Linked DNA regions of Homo sapiens: region 2 is linked to region 1. Evidence: fine-mapped QTL for protein levels in blood plasma. Region 1 holds a variant in brackets. A gene starts in the other region. All regions are shown on their reverse strands.

Region 1 (2,925 bases):
GTATTTAGAAAACCCTATAGTCTTGGCCCAAAAGCTTCTTAAGCTGATACACAACTTAGGCAAAGTCCCAGGGTACAGAATCAATGTACAAAAATCAGTAGCATTCCTATACACCAACAACAGGAAAGCTGAGAGCCAAATCAGGAATGCAATCTCATTCACAATTGCCACAAAAGAATAAAATACCTAGGAATACAGCTAACCAAGGAGGTGAAAGATCTCTACAAGGAGAACTACAAAGCACTGCTGAAAGAAATCATAGTACACAAACAAATAGAAACACATCCAGTGCTCATCGATAGATAGAATCAATATTGTGAAAATGACCATACTGCCAAAAGCAATCTACAAATTCAATGCAATTCCCATAACAAGACCTTCATCGTTTTTCACAGAACTAGATAAAACAAACAATCCTAAAATTCATATGGAACCAAAAAAGAGCCCACATAGACAAAATGGAAACACATCCAATGCTCATCGATAGATATAATCAATATTGTGAAAATGACCATACTGCCAAAAGCAATCTACAAATTCAATGCAATTCCCATAACAATACCTTCATCATTTTTCACAGAACGAGAAAAAACAATCCTAAAATTCATATAGAACCAAAAAAGAGCCCGCATAGCCAAAATGGAAACACATCCAATGCTCACTGATAGACAGAATCAATATTGTGAAAATGACCATACTGCCAAAAGCAATCTACAAATTCAATGCAATTCCCATAACAATACCTTCATCATTTTTCACAGAACTAGAAAAAACAATTCTAAAATTCATATGGAACCAAAAAAGAGCCTGCATAGCCAAAGCAACACTAAGCAAAAAGAACACATCTGGAGGCCTCACAATACGGGACTTCAAACTATAAGGCTACAGTCACCAAAACAGCATGGTGCTGGTATAAAAATAGGCACATAGATTAATGGAACAGAATAGAGAACTCAGAAATAAAGCCAAATACTTACAGCCAACTGATCTTCGACAAAGCAAAGAAAAACATAGAGTAGGGAAATGACACCCTGTTCAACAACCGGTTCTGGGATAATTGGCAAGCCACATGTTGGAAAATGAAATTGGATCCTCGTCTCCCACCTCGTACAAAAAAATCAACTCAAGATGGATCAAGGACTTAAACCTAAGACCTGAAACT[A/G]TAAAAATTCTAGAAGATAACATCAGAAAAGCCCTTCTAGACATTGGCTTAGGCAAAGACTGCATGACCAAAAACCCAAAAGCAAATGCAACAAAAACAAAGTCAAATAGGTGGGACTTAATTAAACTAAAGAGCTTTTGGATGGCAAGAGGAACAGTTAGCAGAGTAAACAGACAACCCACAGAGTGGGAGAAAATCTTTGCAAACTATGCATCTGACAAAGGACTAACGTCCAGAAGCTACAAAGAACTCAAACAAATCAGCCCCCTCCAAAAAAAAAAAATAATCGCATCAAAAAGTAAGCTAAGGACATGAATAGACAGTTATCAAAAGAAGATATACAAACAGCCAACAAACATATGAAAAATGCTCAACATCACAAATTATCAGGGAAATGCAAATCAAAACCACCAGGTGATACCACCTCACTACTACAAGAATGGCCATAATTAAAAAATCAAAAAATAACAGATGTTGGTGTGGATGTGGTGAAAAGGGAACACTGTTACAGTGCTGGTGGGAATGTCAATTAGTATAACCTTTATGGAAAAGAGTATAGAGTTTCCTTAAAGAACTAAAAGTAGATCTACCATTTGATACAGCAATCCCACTACTGGGTATCTACCTCGAGGAAAATAAGACATTATATGAAAAAAAAAACCTTACACATGCATGTTTATAGCAGCAGAATTTGCAACACACACACACACACACACACACACACACACACACACACACACCATGGAATACTACTCAGCCATAAAAAGGAATGAAATAATGGCATTTGCAGCAACCTGGATGGAGTTGGAGACCATCATTCTAAGTGAAGTAACTCAGGAGTGGAAAATCAAACATTGTATATTCTCACTTATAAGTGAGAGCTAAGCTATGAGGATGCAAAGACATGAATGATACAATGGACTTTGGGGACTTGAGGGGAAGTGTGGGAGAGGGGTGAGGGATAAAAGACTACAAATAAGGTGCAGTGTATACTGCTTGGGTGATGGGTGCACCAAAATCTCAGAAATCATCACTAAAGGACTTATCCACGTAACCAAACATCACCTGTTCCCCAAAAACCTATTGAAATAAATAAAAAATAAATAAAATGCTGAGCAAAAAAATAAACTACCATTGAGATTCTTCACAGAACTAGAAAAAAACTATTTTAAAATTCAGATAGAACCAGAAAAGACCCCGAATATACAAGACAATCTTAAGCAAAAAGAACAAAGCTGCAGGTAACATGCTATCTGACTTCAAACTATACTATGGGGCTACAGCAAGCAAAATAGCATGGTACTGGTATAAGTACAGACATGTAGACCAATGGAACAGAATAGAGAACCCAGAAATAAGGCCGCACACCTACAACCATCTGGTCTTCCACAAACCTGACAAAAATAAGCAATGGAAAAAAGACTCCTTATTCAATAAATGGTGCTGGGAATACTGTCTAGCCATATGCAGAAGATTGAAACTGGACTCCTTCCTTATACTATATAGAAAAATTAATTAAAGATGGATTAAAGACTTAAATGTAAAACCCAAAACTACACAAACCCTGGAAGAAAACTTAGGTGATATCATTCAAGACATAGAAACAGGCAAAGATTTCACAACGAAGAAATCTTTGCTTTCCAAAAGCAACTGGAACAAAAGCAAAAACTGACAAATGTGATCTAATTAAACTTAAGAGCTTCTGCAGAGCAAAGGAAACTATCAACCGAGTGAACAGGCAACCTACGGAATGGGAGAAATTT
Region 2 (2,925 bases), not on the chromosome of region 1:
TCTATGACATGGGGATAATAATATTAACTACATTATAAGGTTGTGATGTGAGGTGAGAAAAAGCACCAAAGGTGTTTCACCTGTAATATGCATTATGTAAATATTAGAAAATAATCATTGTTTTTCTTCCAAATGAAATTGCTCTTTTCTTAACCTCTCTCTCACACACAATAATTTCTTTATTGGCTGTGTCATCAGCAGGGAGTGGGCAACAGGCACCACTCTTTCTCATGAGCTTCTATCAACCAGAACAAAAGTATCTTTCAATTCATGTATATTTTATCCCAAAATGTAACTTCTGTCTATACACTGTAAGGTACCTTATTTCCAAGAGGAAGCAAACATTTTACAGAGAAAGATCTTCATGAACAATGTGATGCTTCTTTATAACCTCATATCATAATTAGAACTTCAAGAAATTCAAACTAATTGGACATCACTTTGTATATCCCCTTGACTGTTTTGTTCATCTCATTGCTTAGAAAGGAGTGTGGCACTTAGTAGAACTTCAACAAATATTTGTGAAATGCTCAATAGATGAGATGTGATGTCTTTTCACAGTTGATAACTATGTCTTATGCCTCATTGAAGCTTCTAATAATAACACACAACCCACAAAAGAAGGATTTGTGGATAAGGAGAAGGATAGGTAGAAAAACAATGATTATAAGGGAAAAGAGAACAAGATAAAGAATCAATTTTTAAAAACATAGTAGGGTATATACAGAGTCCAATTTCCCAAATACTTCATAGGTCTATCGGTAGATCATTACAATGAAAACAAGAGTCATTCTTACCTGTCCTATATTGCCAGCCATACTGCAGAGGCAACCCCCATAAAATATTCTGTTCATTATCTGGTGCAAATTTTGCAAAATACCTGGCTGTCTGATTCAATATGATTTTATACATCCCCATTCTCTCAAGGTATACCCAGGGATTAATAATGTACATGCTGTTCTCCACCCTGTAGTCACTGAGCTGACCAGGACTCTCCTTCCACAGAGGGGGCTCTGTCTCTGAGAGATTGGAAGTCCCTGCTAAGGAAGCAGAAAAGGAACCAACTAGTACACAAACCCAGGAAGGAAGAAAAGCCATTGTGCCAGAGCTGGGGATTGCGATCGTAGCAGGGCTTTTATTGGAGAATGGAAGAGGAAGTCATGATATTTGCTAACCTCACAGCATATCAACACTTTGCTTTTTTGTTTTCCTGGATAGGGTGAAAATGTAGAAGAAATTGATGTATTAGCTAACATTTAGGACAATTAAATTTCCCAGACTCTTCAGCGTCAGAATACTGTGTCAGAACCTAAATACAAGGTTAGGCTTGTTTATAATGTATTAGATAAAACTATTTATCAACAAAAACCTTCCAGAAGTTTCCCAGGCTGCATTGTGATTACAAAATACATCACAAATGGCTTTAGAATGCTTCCCTCTAATAAAAATACTTTAACATATTTCATGGAAAATATTAAATAGCTGGAGATGGAAATACTAGGATTTATAATAATCTTCAAATGTGTACTAAAAATATGTGTGATCCAGTTGTAATACAATGTTCTGCTTCAAGAAAGAAGCTTAAAGAATATCTAATTAGCTCAATTCAATAATGAAAGTCAGCCTGCTGGAACAAAACCTGCTAGTTAATTCTTAATATCTATTTTTCATTCTTTATTAGTAAAAGAATCGTAGAATTTTAGCTGGGAATATGGTCTCCCAGAATTAAGGCTAAATTTCCAATTTGCTTTACACAAGCAACCATGTGACTAAGTGTGGACCACAGAGACATAAATAGAAATAGTATCCACAATTTCTGGAACATGTCCTAAAATGAAGGGCACATGTCAATTCCTCTTCCCTTCCTCCATGTTGTGGCTTGGATTATTGATGTGATGATTGAAATTCAATTCTGACCCCTAAACGCAAGGCACTATCTTAGGGATGACAGAATGCAAAGCTGGAGGTGGCTTGAGTCCCAGAGGGCTGTGGAGCCATGAGATGTCCTTGAATTCCTATATCTGAGTTTTACCTGAGCAAGAAACACCCCACTCTCTTGTTTCAACCACTGTTATTGAAGTTTTATTCACACATAGTAAAAATTCTTGCCTTATTAATAGGTAATGCATCTGAAAATCTCAATTATTTACACAATTAGATGCATATGCTTCATAGTAGGTCACTGGTACTGCTTGTTCCTGGCATGGTCCACATTAAACATCCTACAGCATGATTCCACTCTTTTTTCCTGTCATATTATTTACCCAATAGCCATTTGATAATTAATAAATTTTCCAGATATATTAATATAAAAGGGAATGGTAGGAATTGCTACTATAGATCAAGAATGCAATCATTCTGGAAATTTTAAAAGTATATTAAATGTTTATAAGAATATATACGTGAATATGTACTGTAAGATGTGTTACTCTAAAACCAAATGCCAGATTGTTCTCAATGGAGAAATCTTAAGAGCACTCCTTTAAGGTCAGAAATAAAATAAAAATGACCACCAGCATTATAATCATTTAACTTTTCTTTGAGGATACCAAACAATAAAGTTAGTAAAGATAAATAAATTAGAGGTATAAAATTGAGAATGAAGATGTGCTAGTACTTTCCCTTATAGATGATATGACAGTGTTCAGAAAACATAAGAGAATAAACTAGAAGGGTAACTACAAAGAAAAAATTTACTAAAGTGGTTAAGAACTAAATTACTATATATAAATCAATAGCTTTTATATATAAAAGCAATTGGGAAATATAATAGGTGAAAATGGAAGAAAAGTCCTCATTTTATTGTCAACAAAAGGGCCAACATATAAATGTATAATTATGGTAGATCTGTTTGGAAAAATCTCTAAGACTACAAAAAAATTGAACAGTTTTAAAGTCATACAATGTTTCTCAATAGACTCAACA

Direction of the effects. Positions count from the first base shown, and alleles are read on the strand shown. Strength reflects both the effect of a copy and how common the allele is.
In carriers of allele A in region 1, the plasma level of the protein whose gene starts at base 1,110 in region 2 tends to be lower than with G alone (strong association).

The links. PIP is the posterior inclusion probability: the model's chance that the variant is causal. The UK Biobank Pharma Proteomics Project read protein levels with antibody pairs (Olink). The fine-mapping took linkage between variants from a reference panel, not from the people measured, so its PIPs are less certain.
Region 2: C6orf58 starts here. The variant in region 1 is fine-mapped to the plasma level of the C6orf58 protein (UK Biobank, PIP above 0.99).

The regions. Positions count from the first base shown.
Region 1 is chrX:69,855,232-69,858,156 of GRCh38, reverse strand. The region is part of intron 1 of EDA (ectodysplasin A); the gene reads right to left. Among named protein-coding and RNA genes, the nearest start is that of MIR676, 170 kb to the left of the region's middle. The variant A/G (reference allele first, on the strand shown) is at 1,163.
Region 2 is chr6:127,575,359-127,578,283 of GRCh38, reverse strand. It overlaps C6orf58 (chromosome 6 open reading frame 58), which reads right to left and starts at 1,110. Exons shown (of 6, transcript NM_001010905.3): 1 at 798-1,110. The coding sequence starts at 1,098.